Homo sapiens: one gene and its partners. The protein of the gene in region 4 purifies or fractionates together with the protein of the main gene of each other region. This does not show direct contact. Each region holds a gene or a part of one and is shown on either strand. Other genes may lie near its edges.

Region 1 (3,518 bases), on a different chromosome or scaffold from region 4:
TGGGGCTGTCTGGTGATTCTGTAGATCAATTCTGTAGGCCCACTGTCCTGGTCAGTGGCAGACAGCTGCAGGGTGGTGATTTTCTTCACTGAGTTTTCATCCAAGACCAGTCCTTTATTGGTGGTGATGACTGGTGGGGATTTGTCTTCTGAAAATATCAGAAATAGTGATTTGAAATGGGATCTTCTCAGCCTCCTTTCTTTAATTCTAGGCCTGGTGCCAAGAAGTAAGGTCAGAGTCATCTCTAGGCCTGTGTGTTAGAGAGCACACCAAGGAGCCAGGGCTTCGTGCAATAAAGGGGGTATGATTTTCAGTTTCCACACCAGCTAGGTAAAGGGAAGGACTCGAGCCTCGAGGTGAACAAAGTGTAAACTATATAACCTCAGAACTGCTAAAATAGTTTTATATTAGAAAATCAAATGTCTCTTTACCTAGAATGCTGATGGAAAATGACTTGTCAATCAATCTGTTGCCTTCTCCATCAACCACATCAAATTTAAAAGCAAAGCTCCCTCCAGGTTCTCCTGTTCCATGACTATATTCTACGTGGCCTATAAAAAGGAAAAAAAATCAAGATTTGCTATTAGTGCTTTCTGCCCTTATTTCTGAAGCAAGAGGTGTGAATTCAATTGGTGTTCACACCAATGAATCAGTTCACACCTTCCTCGCTTTGACACTGCTTTTGACATTTTAATCTAAAGTTTTCATTTCCTCCTTTTCCTCTCCCACCATCTACTTTCTCATAACCAAAGACCTTCTCATAACAAAATCACCCCAAGTGACATTTCTCATGGTTAAGGCTGAGCCTTTTTGGAAGATCAGCTCAGCCTCTAAGGACACCTCATGAAAACGAGATCCACAAAACTGCCCATGTGTAAATGTGCACTGACCACACCCACATCACCTGGAGTGACCCTATTATATATTGGAATCACAAGGGCAAGAAGACACAGAGCTGCACCTCACATTCTCCCAGAACTCTTCACTTTTCATTGCCCAGTTCACGGAGCAACATGGGCTATAGCCAACCAACAAATAAACTCCACATAGAACTCAAAAGGATCTAAAAGGAGAAGTACAACAAAAATGTATTACATTTTTGTTAACCTACAGCATCACTTAAAAGCATCTTTCAATTTGGTTGTGTAAATATAACCAAATCTCTGGGAAGAGGGGGCTGGTCTTATCTTTTAAAAGTAGACACCGACATATGAAATAATTAAGGAATTACTTTCCTTTTGCCTCTTCCACTCCCCTTCACTAAAGCACAGCCAGTTCCAATGAGAATTCAGCTGTTGTCAATTTTAGGTGTTAGTGTGTGGGCGGGACACTTGTTTTTTATCCGCAGGGGTATATTTCCACTTCTAAACAGAATTGCACATAATCACAAGACTGTGGATTACGTTTTCCCCAATATATAACTTTTTTTCCCTTTTGTATCCCTGAAAGCACTGTACAGTAACTACGTAGCATTTAACATTTATGCCTTTACATTACATCAGCATTTCCTGATGGAGGGATGTGCCATGTAATTTCCCCTAGGCAGCTCCGATTTATGCCCTTCCATTTTGCTTAGTTCATTAACTTGTGCTCTTTGGGGAGCTGAAAAGAGATATAAATTGCTCACCTAAGGAAGGCATAATTTTCACCTTAATCCATCCCAACTCACTTCTTTTTTCCTTCTCTCTCTCTCATATATACTTTTTAGCATCACAGCAAGTCAAAATAACTTTTTCTCTCCAAAATAGCTGCAAATGCCACCAATGCTAAGTCAAAGCATGAACACATTTCAACCAAGAAAGATAGGGCTTTTTTAAAAACAAAAAGAAAAAAAAAATAAGAAAACAAGGAAGAGAACAAATGAAGCTCCTCAAAACAAAGAGTGCACAGTTTATTGCCATAGACTACCAGATATTTAATTCTCATTTTACTAGTGTAGGTGCAGTCCACGGAAGCCTGGTAGGCAGAAGAGAACTGGCTGACCTTGGCTAATGTCTGCCTGGGTGAAACTTCGGATGGGGCCTTTAATAGAAATTTGCTCCAGGTTGCCATGCTTCATCATCTGCAGGCGCCCTGCACCAGGATCTTCCTTCATGATGTACATAACCTGATGGTCATCTGAGTCAATATCTGTCACTTTCAAGTGCTGTTCTGTGATGCGTGCTACAGACCCTTGGAAGAGAACGGAAGAGAGTAGGTTATTCCCCAACATTTCCTTTGAACGGGATGTCAAATGATTTTAGGAGACTGGAGGCTAAATTATCACATATTCATTGGATCTAGGTACCAGGCACTTGCCCTTCTCAGTTTCCAGCTGAATAAATTATAATTTCCCTAGTGAAAGAGTACCGACATTTCAATTTACTAATTTTCCCTTGAGTCAACACCTAAGCACTTTTTTCCTTCTGATCCATTTTCATTCTCTCCTATGCTCCTCCGACTCAGTGACCTACCAGTTAATACCTAGATCTGTGGAATAACTCCCAGTTCTGTGACAAAAATAACTCCTAGATCTATGATGAAACCTGCTTGGATTTAGTTTACTTACTGTCTTGAGAATCACCAAATCAGAAAAATATAGCTTTACATAAACTCAAACATATCTTGTTGCCATGTCAGACAAAGTAGTGAAAATCAGCATCCTTCAGGACAGAGGATGTTAGGAGCAAGGAGATCTGAGCCTCTGGGCCCTGGACACTGCGCAGGTGTTGGGGATGAAGATAAGGCCCTGGCTAATGGCAAACTCCTCTTCTCAGGGTCTTGTCACTTGCTTTATTACCCAGCCGCTTTATCATGTTAAAAATAGTAAATCCCGGTAAAGTAGAGCCTAGTTATTCATGCATAATACATCCTGGTGTTTGGAGTGACATGTTCTTAGTGGGTAATACCAAGAACACAAGACCCTGACCATGCTTTACCCAGGCCGTTTCTCAGAGAGCAACCTTGAGGGATGAGGTAATGTCTTCCTCTCAGACAAAAATAAGACTTGCATTCTGCTGCTGTAACATGGAGAATTCCCCAAGCTCAGTATTCCCCTCTGTGATGCATCCTACTGCACACGAAAGTGTCTGTCTGGGCCCTCTACATCACCCCTATGGGACTGGGATGGCAGAGGGAGCCGATGCAAACCTGCTGATGCCCATGCTGCCTGCTGTGCTATAAGTAACAAGAGTGCCGTATTTCTGATGGAGGAATCTTGTATCTTCTACCAGCATCCATGAAACAGTAACAGGATAGTTTATTAGCTTATAAGTAGGATAAAGTCAAATCTCAGACTTGATATTTAAGACCTTTGAGAACTACCAAGTTTTCCAATACTATTATACCATACATTTTTCACTGCAAAATACACATGAAACTAAGAACAAACAAACAACAGAACTCTAGTAAGATGCAGACACCCTGGGCAAAAGGTCCACTTCTTAATTAAGTAACTTCCTACTGCAAACTGTTCAAGACTCACACTTGTCACAGGTCCTCCAATGTTGCTTAAACATGAGCAAAATTGTGAATGTTAA
Region 2 (3,518 bases), on a different chromosome or scaffold from region 4:
GTGAGGTAGCTAAGAGGCCATTTAGCTCCTTTTTTTTTTTTTTGACACTTATCTCCTTTTTTTTTTTTTTTTGACACGAAGTCTCACTCTGTTGCCGAGGTTGGAGTCCAGTGGCATGATCTGAACTCACCACAAACTCTGCCTCCTGGGTTCAAGCGATTCTCTTGCCTCAGCCTCCTGAGTAGCTGGGATTACAGGTGCCCGCCACCATGTCCAGCTAATTTTTGTATTTTTAGTAGAGATGGGGTTTCACCATGTTGTCCAAGCTGGTCTCAAACTCCTGACCTCAGGCGATCCAGCTGCCTCAGCCTCCCAAAGTGCTGGGATTACAGGCATGAGCCACTGTGCCTGGCCTATCTCCATTTTAGTAGATACTTTTCCATACTGTATACGTGAGGAAGGCAACTACTATGACTAAAACCCAAATTATAGTTTAATTAAAATAAATTAAAAATTTGATATTTTTGCCAGGCACGGTGGCTCATGCTTGTAGTCCCAGCACTTTGGGAGGCCAAGGTGGGTGGTTCATCTGAGGTCAGGAGTTCAAGACCAGCCTGGCCAACATGGTAAAACCCCATTTCTACTAAAAATATAAAAATTAGCCAGGTGTGGTGGCACATGCCTGTAATTCCAGCTACTCGGGAGGCTGAGGCATGGGAATTGCTTGAACCTGGGAGGTGGAAGTTGCAGTGAGCTGAGATCACACAACTGCACTCCAGCCCGGGTGACAGAGCAAGACTCTTCCTCAAAAACAAAAAATAAAAATAAAAAATTGATATTTTAACAAACATAAATGGAAAAGAAAAAAAACCCAAATACAGGTACAAAATTTATTCAAAGATTCATTGTAGTTTTCTGCATTTTACTATTATCTACGGCAACCATATACTAGACTTATAATTTTAAAAGTTATCAGGCTGGGTGCGTTGGCTCACGCCTGTAATCCCAACACTTTGGGAGGCCAAGGAGGGTGGACATTTGAGGTCAGGAGTTCGAGACCAGTCTGGCCAACATGGCGAAACCCTGTCTCTACTAAAAATAAAAGTTAGTTGGGCAGGGTGGCGCACGCCTGTAATCCCAGCTACTCGGGAGGCTGAGGCAGGAGAATCGCTTGAACTTGGGAGGCAGAGGTTGTGGTAAGGTGAGATCACACCACTGCACTCCAGCCTGGGTGACTGAGACTCTGTCTCAAAAAAAAAAAGTTATCGGCCAGGCGTGGTGGCTCACACATGTAATCCCAGCGCTATGGGAGGCCGAGACAGGCGGATCATGAGGTCAGGAGATCGAGACCATCCTGGCTAACACGGTGAAACCCCATCTCTACTAAAAATACAAAAAAATTAGCCGGGTGTGGTGGCGGGCACCTGTAGTCCCAGCTACTCGGGAGGCTGAGGCAGGAGAATGGCGTGAACCCAGGAGGCGGAGCTTGCAGTGAGCCGAGATTGCACCACTGCACTCCAGCCTGGGTGACTGAGCGAGACTCCATCTCAAAAAAAAAAAAAAGTTATCACATAGTTGCACAACTTTGTGAATACACTAAAAACCAATGAACTGTATACTTCAAATGGGTGAAATGTATGGTATGTGAATTATCTCAATAAAGCTACTAAAAAACATTATTTAAAAAGAATTCTTCTACATCTAAGGCCTGAGCAGGACTTGCTTTAACGCAACACCCCTGCAGCAGCATAACGTGGTCTATTTATTGCTGGACCAGGAACAGGCAACTCTGGGGAGGGTATGTGCTCATCGAGGCCACGCCATCTGCAGAGGTTCTGTTAAGAGCCTAGGGCTCCCCTTGGGTTAGCCCCCATTGAAGGGCCATTGTCAGTGCCCCCTCCTCAAAGGAGCCTGACTGCTGCTCTCGACTCACGGGGGCTTCCTAAAGGAAGGGCTACTTGTTCCCGATGGAGAGCTCAATGCCATTAGCATTTCTGTATACTTCTTCAAGATTTCGAATGCTACTTACCATTTCTGTGCAGCTTGTTATCACCCAAATGACTGGTTTTGGAGTCAGCGTTAACATTCCAATGCCTTACACACTTGCTGGTTTCCTTATGAAATTCAGTGTTTATGTTCTGCACCCAGTTAACTAATGTATTTGGCTACCTGAGAGTTGAGCATATTCTGTTTTAGTATCTTTTCTCCTACCACAAACCCAAAGGCTGGAATCCTGTATTTTGCTATCACTTCTACTCCTACTTGATTTGATACAATTCTCGAGTTAAAGAAGAAATACCTTTGGTCTCAACAACAAACTTCATAGGAGATCCTTAATCAGTTAAGCTTCTAATAGAAAAGCAGATAGGAACCAGGAGCCAGAAACTTGTCTTAAGACTGAGGCTCATCAGGACTTTACAAGAGAATCACATATTAGTACCATATTTGAGTCTGTCATTTTCTCTAACATTCTTTCCTTACCCCCAGAACAAGTCCACTGATTGTCTTAGACAGAGCAGGGATTTTTTTTTTTTTTTTTTTTTTTGAGACAAAGTTTCGCTCTTGTTGCTCAGGCTGGAGCGCAATGGTGCAATCTTGGCTCACTGCAACCTCCGCCTCCCGGGTTCAAGCGATCCTCCTGCCTCAGCCTCCTGAGTAGCTGGAATTACAGGTGCCTGCCAACATGCCCAGCTAATTTTTATATTTTTAGTAAAGATGGGGTTTCACCATGTTGACCAGGCTGGTCTTGAACTCCTGACCTCAGGTGATCCATCCACCTCAGCCTCCCAAAGTGCTGGGATTACAGGTGTGAGCCACCACGCCCGACCCCAATTTTTTTTTTTTTTAAAGAGAGAGGATCTTCCTAGGTTGCCCAGGCTGGAGTGCAGTGGCTATTCACAGGCATGATCACAGCACATTGCTGCCTTCAAATCCTAGCCTCAAGCGATACTCCAGCCTCAGTCTTCTGAGTAGCTAGGACTACAGGCACACAACACCATGCCTGGCTAATTTATTAAAAATTATTTGTAGCGACAAGGTCTTGCTATGCTGTCCAGGCTGGTCTTGAATTCCTGGCCCCAAGTGATCCTCCTGCTTTGACCTCCCAAAATGTTGGGATTACAGGTGTGAGCCACAGCACCCAGCCTGGAGCAGGAATTTTTAATTCTCAACTTCGCAGATGAGGACACTGAAAGAAGTTAAAGGTCACAGATGCAGGAAGGGGCAGAAGAAGAATGCCACCCCAGCTCCTTTCCACTGCCCCATCCAGCACAGCACTCTGTCCAAATACTGCTGGATCATCAGACCATGAGAGCTGACAAAGGCCAGAGGCCCCCTGCAGCTAGGTCCAGCCTGGGCATTCCCAGCATTCGGAGGGCCAGTCCAGCTACCTCCTTCCACTTCCTGTTTCCTTGCTAATGGAAAAGAAAGGATGCTCCTCCTTGCTTTCTAAAGTCCCAGGAGTTCTGAGGTTTAAAAACTTGGTTCAAAGAAAATAAAATACTCTGCACAGCAGGTACTTCTGCTGGAAACTAGATGGTCACTTCCCCTTTTTTTTCTTTCTTTTTTTTTTTTTTTGA
Region 3 (3,518 bases), on a different chromosome or scaffold from region 4:
CGGCCCCCGACCCCTGGCACCTGGGCAGTTGTTGTTTCTCTCGGTAGTGTCCGGCGAGATGACCTCCTGCTGCTGGGCCTGGATGGCCCCCAGGATTCCCCAGAGCAGGAGCACGGAGCAGGTGCCCTGGAGCATCTTGGCAGCACCTGTGGCCCTGAAGTCCTGCAACAGGGGTGGGGGTCGCTCAGACACCCCCAGTGCCTCTCCCCTGGCACCCTCCCCCATGGCAGGCGCACGCACAGCAGGTCAGCGGGATTGGGGGCACTGCCCTCAGTCTTCAAGGAAGCGGGGTCTGCGCCCAGCACACACCGTCACCAGCATCTGGACTGGGGGGCTTGCGCCCTCTTGCCCCACCCTGGGTGGGGTCACAGATGTTTAGTGGGTGCCTCTGGGCTCAGTTTTGGGTGGGATTTGGATGGTTGAGGCCCTTCCATGTCCTCCAGGGCTGGGTGGAGTGGGTAGCTGGGCGCGTCGGCATGGAAGGGAATGGAGCACCACTGTCTGGCGCCCCCCACTGCCTGGGGCTGCCCTGGAAACAGTGCAGAGGGGAGGGCGGGAGAGAGATCCCAGCTTCCCCAGACCGGCTCCCCTGCAGAGCTAGGCACTCTCTCTCCAGCCTGGCTCCATTCCCTTTAAACAGGACTTTGATAAGGAGGGAGGGAGGACTCTGTCAAGTGTAGGGACACAGCCGTCATTAGCCTGGCTTTCCTTTCTGTTGGGTGCCAGGACCCTGGGGCAAACAGATCCAGCCCTTGAACGTCCATCCTCCCTGATGCCCTGTGGCTTGGCCTAAGCTCCAGCTCCAGGAGGCCATCAGGACGGGCCTCACTGTGCTGCTGGCTCCGCAGAGTGGGGCTGGCAGCAGCCGGGCAGCTGGGCAGAAAGGGCACCGGGCCTGGTTCAGAGCGTGCAGTTCCAGGGGTAATGCAGGGATTGGAGTGCCGCCCTCTCCTCGGTGCAGATGGGAGGAGTGTCCAAGCACCGGGACTAGGGGAGGCGCTGCCAGGAGAGGGCCCTGAAGGGTTGCTGTGATTTTGCGGCGTCTGGAGTGGATGAGGTGACCCAGGCCAGACCTGCTCAGCCTGGGGCCCAGGGAGGAATGAAGTCCGTTCCCAAAGGTGCCAGCTCAGGCAGTTTGTGGGTGAGTTTCACAGCTTCAAGGACAAGCACTTCATGCTATTTAACTTGTTTTAGAACATAAAAAGATAAACTTTTTCCCAATTCATTTTTAAATGTTGCATAACCTGTGACCAAAGCTTGATAAAAAAAAAAGTCCCTAAAAGTAACTCTACAGATAAATATCACTATAAATATTACTGATGGCAGCGGCAGCCCATCTGGTGTGGCCGCTGCCATCACACTGGCTGCTCAGGGAGGGCCCATGGAAGAGGCAGACAGGCCCCCAACCCCGCAGACTGCCTCCCTGGGGGCCGCTGCCATGGGGCCGGGCCGGGTGGTGTGCTGGGTGAAGGGGAGCTCACGGCGGTGTTGCCCCTGTCTGGGATGCTGGCCCAGGTCTGGAGACCCTGCCCCAGGCTGCGAGAGGACATGGCCAGGTACCATGCTCCACGGAGCCAGCAGGAGCCGGGGATAAGTGGGATCCCTGCCCCTTGCAGTTTGGCGAGGTGAGAGTTCCCCAGGTACAACTGCCCAAGTCGTGGCTGTGGATCTGGGCCTTCTGCTCCATGGAGGAGGCAGGAGCCAGCCCCCACTCCTGGTGCAGTTTCAGCTGCCCCAACTGGGGCTGCTGACCCAGGCATCGCTGCACTCTTGGGGAGCCAGGGAAGGCCCCTCTTTCCCTTGTAGGCCTGGAGGTGCCTGTTCCCGCTGCCCAGCTTCTTCCCGCTCCCACCACCCACTCCAATCTCAGAGCAGAGTTGGGGCTGAGCCTGGGCACTGTCACAGCCTGGCCGGGTGGGTGCATGCTTGTGGCAGTGCTGACATGCCAGCCCCCTGCTGACTTGGCCCCCTCCAAACTGTGGGCACTGAGAAGTGCAGGAGGGGAGGCTTGGGGGGGTGCTGAGGGTGGCTGGGCACCGGTGCCCCTTGGTACCAGCAGCCTGGGCACCATGGATGGCTGCAGGAGGCAGATAGGCTCCTGGGCAGAAGAGGATGGGTCCCCAGTGAAGCCCCACCTTCAGGCTGGGGCAGGCCTGAAGCCTGGGGGCCGGGTTGCCCGTCCTACGGACCAGAGGGGAACTCAAGGTGCTTTCTTCTGGGCCTGCACATGGCTGCACATGGACCAATCAGCATGCACTTCCCCTCTCTGAGGCCTTTAAAAGCCCCAGGCTCAGTCAGAGCAGGGCAGAGCATGGCACGACCAGCTGCAGAGAGGAGGTGCTCTCTCTGCTGAGAGCTTCAGGACCTGAAGGGATGTCAGGACGACCAGCTGCAGAGAGGAGCTACCCTCTCCAGGGCTTTCTCTCTGCTGAGAGCTGAACACTAGTTGAGATGCCCTGTTTGCAGAGAGGAGACACGCTCTCGAGGGCCTCCTCTCTGCTAAGAGCTGCAGAGACAATGGGATGACCTGCCTGCAGAGAGGAGCCACCCACTCCAGGGCCTTCTCTCTGCTGAGAGCTGAACATTTGACAAGACAACCCGCCGACAAGACAACCCGCCTACAGAGAGGGGCTGCCCCCTGCGGGTCTCCTGTGAGCTCCCCTAACACTCAATAAAGCTTCTCTGTCTTGCACACCCTCCACTTGTCTGTGTACCTCATTCTTCCTGGACACAGGACAAGAACTTGGGCAAAGGCGCCACTGGCCATAGAGGTTTCAGGCCAGAAAAGTGACACCCTAAAAATCCCATAACATTATCACAAAAATTCTAGCCAATATTAAAAACTAAAATCCAATAGCATATTAAGGACCACTATACCAGAACTATAATATGAAGTTAAAGTACAGTGTTGCCACAAACACTAGGGAATACATTAATGTAAGTCACATTAACATAAAATGGGAAAAAATATGCAATTGCTTCAATAGATCCCTGAAACATCAATTTCTAACTAAGAAACAACAACAGCCAGACAAGGTAAAACCTAGTAAGAAATTTAGGAGTAGAATTAACTCTATAAAGGATATACATTTCAAATCAAGAGCTCACATCATATTTTACACAAAAAGCTAAAATAGTGGTTCTTATCTTTGTGGTCATGGACCCTTTTAAGAGTCTACACAATTTCACCTTACACAAATGCATAGATGCTCATATACAGAAATCATGTCCAGGAATTCAGGGATTCCATTCGTAGATCTAACCCTGGGTTAAAAAATCCTGCATTAGAAGAATGCTTACTACAGTACAAAAAAAATGGGGTGGGGGCAAACAGTGCAGATCTTACGCTACCATTCAGTGTTGTGTTGGAAGCCAATGCAATAAGACAGTAAAAATAAAAGTATAACTGTTGGAAAAGAAGAGACAAAACTGTCCTTATTAAAGATAGGATTGTCTACCCAGAAAATCATCTGAACAAAGTTTTTTTAAAAAAGAGAAAAAAAAATATATATATATAT
Region 4 (4,464 bases):
TGGAGCTTTTCATGCTGCCTGTTTGCCAGCCCTGAAGCTATGCCTTGAGGTTGGGCAAGGTGGCATATCCTAGATCAGAGATCCTCAACTGGGGCCATTTTTCTCCCCAGAGGACATTTGGAAACATGTGGAGACATTTTTGATCATCTGCGGGGGTGGGGAGAGGGGCTACTGACATCTGGTGAGTAGAGACCAGAGGGACCATTAAACTTTCTACAACGCCCAGGACAGCCCCTCCACAATAAAGAGTTATTTGACCTCACATATTAATAGCACAAAGTTGAGGAACCTTGATCTAGATCCACAGCACAGAAGAAAGGATGTAGATTTTTCACACATTAAAGATGAGAAAGCTTGTGCCTGTAATCCCTGTGACTCAGGAGGCTGTGGCAGGAGGATTACTTGAGCCCAGGAATTCAGGGTTACAGTGAACTATCATCGCAGCACTGCACTCCAGCCTGGGTGACAGAGCAAGATTTTGTCTCTTAAAAAAAAAAAAGATGAGGACAGGCACAGTGGCTCATGCCTGTAATCCCAGCATTTTGGGAGGCCGAAGTGGGTGGATCACGAGGTCAGGAGTTCAAGACCAGCCTGGCCAGCATAGTGAAACCCCATCTCTACTAAAAATACAAAAAATTAGCCAGCTACTTGGGAGGCTGAGGCAGGAGAAGCGCTTGAACCCGGGAGGTGGAGCTTGCAGTGAGCCAAAATCTTGCCATTGCACTCCAGCCTGGGCGACAGAGCAAGACTCCGTCTCAAAAAGAAAAAAAAAAAAGATGAGAAAGAGGAAGGGAGAGAAAAAAGAGAGAGAGGAAAGAAAGAGAGAAGGTTTTGGAGTCAAAAAGACTTAGAAATTCCAGTTCTTCCACTTCCCATGGAACCTTGGCAAGTTGCCTTCTCTCTTTCTCTGAATCTCACATTTTGCCTCTGTGAAGTAGGGGTGGTACCTGGTGGAGATGATGCGGAGATGAGGGTGAGGGGTGTGTTGCACACTATGCCCCTAGGATGGGTGAGAGCTTGGGAGCACTGAACCTCCCTTTCCCCTCTTGTTTCTTCCCCCCATTGTCTCCCACCAGCTCCCTGGGATCTCCACTTCACTCTCTGGGATTCCACCAGCAGGAGGCTACTCCTGGAGTTAAGGCGTGTTGTTCAGACTGGGGCATTTTAGGGGGCATAAATAATAATTATGCCTGGACAATGGACATAACATCTAGGGCCTTCTGAAGCAAACCAGGGTGTGGGGTACCCAAACAAGGCAGTAGGCCCCAGGAGGCAGGTCCCTGCAGTCCCAGCAGAGAGCAGGGCACAGGGTTGAGAAGACTGAGCAAACTTCATTATCAGCTCCTTTGTCCCCCACTCTGTCCTGGAGCAATCATTCTGGCCTCTTCCCACTTCCCCAAAAACCCAGTATAAAGGCTGCTTCTGGCCCCTGAAGCCAGAGGCACTGAGAGTGGAGGTCTCAGACTCTTGGAAGGTGAGTTCTTTTCTGGCTGCCCAGGCAGGACCAGTGTAGGCCCTGGGAAGAAGCAGCACCTCATAGGGCAAACACGTAGGAGGCCTGTCCTTAGGAACATCATAGCTAAGCAGACCTGTCCCCGCAGGGGCAGGAGTCTGGGCTAAGGGTGATACTGGAGAGCAGCAACGGAGACTGGAAGACAAATGAAATTTGGTACCTGAGTTATCCCTCCCACCATTCCTTTTCTAGACTCTCCAGCTCAGGGTCTGTTCATGGCAAGAGGAGAAAGCAATCTTGTTTGCTCTTTAATCAAACAATTAAACAAATATTCCCTCTATACTATGTGCCAGGGGCTATACTAGACACACAAAGACAGCCCCAAGAAGGACGGTGGAGTAGTGTCCTCGCTAAAAGACAGTAGATATGCAATGCCTCTTGCTCCTGCCCTTTCTCCTGCTGGGAACAGTTTCTGCTCTTCATCTGGGTAAGTCTCTCCCTTCCCTCCTCATGCGTCTTTCCCTTTTTTCCTTTTTCCTACACTCCCCTCCCCCCGCTTTTATTTGCACTCATGAGGCCAGGACCACAGCCTTCCCTCTTTAGCTGATACAGCTCATCTCCGGTAAGATATCACTTGGACTCAGAACTGTAACCTGGAACTTTCTCTTTTTTGTTTGATTTTTTTTTGTTGTTGTTGTTTTTGTTTTTTTTTTTGTTTGTTTTTTGTTTTGTTTTGAGACGGAGTCTCGCTCTGTTGCCCAGGCTGGAGTGCAGTGGCGCGATCTCGGCTCACCACAAACTCCGCCTCCCGGGTTCAAGCAATTCTTCTGCCTCAGCCTCCTGAGTAGCTGGGACTACAGGCACATGCCACCACGCCTGGCTAATCTTTGTATTTTTAGTAGAGATGGGGTTTCACCATATTTGCCAGGCTGGTCTCAAACTCCTAACCTTGTGATTCGCCCGCCCCGGCCTCCCAAAGTGCTGGGATTACAGGCGTGAGCCACCGCACCCGGCAAACTGTAACCTGAACTTTCAGAAGGAAAAACCACCCACCTGTTAAGATGAAGGGCTGGTGACTGCCCCAGGCTTCTCACACGTGCTTTCTCCCACCTTCAAAACACACACTCGTGGTGTCGGCCAGAAGTCAGGTTCTTGTCCATTTGTGGGTGTGACCCGAGAGATCTCTCCTTACCTAACACCAAGGAAATCCTCCAGTCTTGTCTTCAGGTGGAATTCCTAGGAAAGCTCGAGCGACGTTGCTGGAGCTGTCCACGGTGCTGGAACTAGGAAGCTCTTGACCTGATGGCAGGTTACCTCTTCTTCCCAGAGAATGATGCCCCCCATCTGGAGAGCCTAGAGACACAGGCAGACCTAGGCCAGGATCTGGATAGTTCAAAGGAGCAGGAGAGAGACTTGGCTCTGACGGAGGAGGTGATTCAGGCAGAGGGAGAGGAGGTCAAGGCTTCTGCCTGTCAAGACAACTTTGAGGATGAGGAAGCCATGGAGTCGGACCCAGCTGCCTTAGACAAGGACTTCCAGTGCCCCAGGGAAGAAGACATTGTTGAAGTGCAGGGAAGTCCAAGGTGCAAGATCTGCCGCTACCTATTGGTGCGGACTCCTAAAACTTTTGCAGAAGCTCAGGTAAGTAGTAGGGAGGCTACTGCGGAGGACCTGGGGGAAAAGAGAGTACATTCAGTCTTCTGTTCCCTATTCATTTAGGCTAGTGGTTCTCAAAGCCTCGCATGCATCAGAATCACCTGGAGTTGTTGTTAAAACACAGCTTTCTGGGCCTCACCTGCACGACTTCTGATTTAGGAGGGCTGAGGTGAAGCCTGAGAATTTGCATTTACAACAAATCCCCAGGTGATGATGATATTGTTGGTCTGGGGAGAACCACCGATTTAAACAAAAGGCTTTGGTGTTAGAAACGCCTGTGTTAAATTCTGGTTCTGCCTTTTATTAGCTGTGTTACCTGGGCAAGTTGCTTTGCCTTTCAAAGCTTTAGCACCTTCATTTGTAAAACGAAGATATATAGCACCAACTTCTTAGAGTTGTGGTGAGCATTAAATGAGATAATACATGAAAAGTGTTTGGAATAGTCACTGGGCTGTAATAAACTCTCAATAAGCGGTGGTTATAATTATTATGAGTATTATCATTTCCTGTAGGATTGTCCTGACAGCTAATTAAGAAGCAAAAGATAGGATTAAGGGAGGCAAGTAGGTTTATTTTTAACCTGAAAAGGGATGCCGGGCTCTTGCCTGGAGACTCAGAAACTTGAAATAAATGAGAGGGAATTCTCTACTTTGTTTCCGTCTGCAGAATGTCTGCAGCAGATGCTACGGAGGCAACCTTGTCTCTATCCATGACTTCAACTTCAACTATCGCATTCAGTGCTGCACTAGCACAGTCAACCAAGCCCAGGTCTGGATTGGAGGCAACCTCAGGGGCTGGGTAAGTCAGGGGCCAAATCTTGGGTGCAGTAAGTTCTTTCTGAATGTGTTAAAGTAGCATCTGATGGTGCCAAGCCTCAGGCCAGCAGCTAAGGTTTCCTTAATGTGGCAGGCAATGATGTGCTGGAGATGGCTTGTACTGGCTCAGGAGAACTGATGGTGCACATCTCTTACCAACTCCATGCTCAGTGACTACATGCTTGCAGCTTGACATCAGCCATGGTGGGAGTATTTACACAAAGGAAATAGGCAATTGCTACACATCAGGGCTCCTTTCTACTCCCCATCCTCCCACCCACCCCAAGAGCTGGTATAAACATTTACCAGCATACCACTGGAGTCATGAGACAGAGTCCAGGCCCAGCTTAGTCACTTAGAAAGCTAGTTAAATAGGTTTCTTGGAGCCTCTGTTTTTTTTCAATCCCTGAAATGGGGACCTTCTTCTCTCAGGGTGGTTCTGGAATTGTGGGTGAATAAGTGGCATTATATTTGGTACGGTCCATAGATCAGCAGTATGGTCCATAGATCAGCAGTACCACCATCCCCTGGGAGCTTGTT

The links. The genes of interacting proteins can lie anywhere in the genome.
Region 1: the proteins of PRG3 (region 4) and FRAS1 purify together in Homo sapiens (co-immunoprecipitation; 3 studies listed by BioGRID and IntAct, with this or other methods). This does not show direct contact.
Region 2: the proteins of PRG3 (region 4) and GID4 purify together in Homo sapiens (affinity purification with mass spectrometry; 2 studies listed by BioGRID and IntAct, with this or other methods). This does not show direct contact.
Region 3: the proteins of PRG3 (region 4) and COL6A2 purify together in Homo sapiens (co-immunoprecipitation; 2 studies listed by BioGRID and IntAct, with this or other methods). This does not show direct contact.

The regions. Positions count from the first base shown.
Region 1 is NC_000004.12:78,448,805-78,452,322, reverse strand, and holds part of FRAS1 (extracellular matrix organizing protein FRAS1 isoform 1 precursor), read right to left. Parts: intron 2,173-3,518; coding exon 1,984-2,172; intron 552-1,983; coding exon 432-551; intron 149-431; coding exon 1-148. UniProt on the Homo sapiens protein: Involved in extracellular matrix organization. Required for the regulation of epidermal-basement membrane adhesion responsible for proper organogenesis during embryonic development. Involved in brain organization and function.
Region 2 is NC_000017.11:18,045,890-18,049,407, reverse strand, and holds part of GID4 (glucose-induced degradation protein 4 homolog), read right to left. Parts: intron 1-3,518.
Region 3 is NC_000021.9:46,108,094-46,111,611, reverse strand, and holds part of COL6A2 (collagen alpha-2(VI) chain isoform 2C2 precursor), read right to left. Parts: intron 2,698-3,518; exon of another isoform or gene 1,516-2,697; intron 1,142-1,515; exon of another isoform or gene 163-1,141; 5' UTR 136-162; coding exon 21-135; exon of another isoform or gene 1-20. UniProt on the Homo sapiens protein: Collagen VI acts as a cell-binding protein.
Region 4 is NC_000011.10:57,378,124-57,382,587, reverse strand, and holds the start of PRG3 (proteoglycan 3 precursor), read left to right. Parts: upstream 1-1,437; 5' UTR 1,438-1,474; intron 1,475-1,806; 5' UTR 1,807-1,879; coding exon 1,880-1,940; intron 1,941-2,780; coding exon 2,781-3,094; intron 3,095-3,775; coding exon 3,776-3,907; intron 3,908-4,464. UniProt on the Homo sapiens protein: Possesses similar cytotoxic and cytostimulatory activities to PRG2/MBP. In vitro, stimulates neutrophil superoxide production and IL8 release, and histamine and leukotriene C4 release from basophils.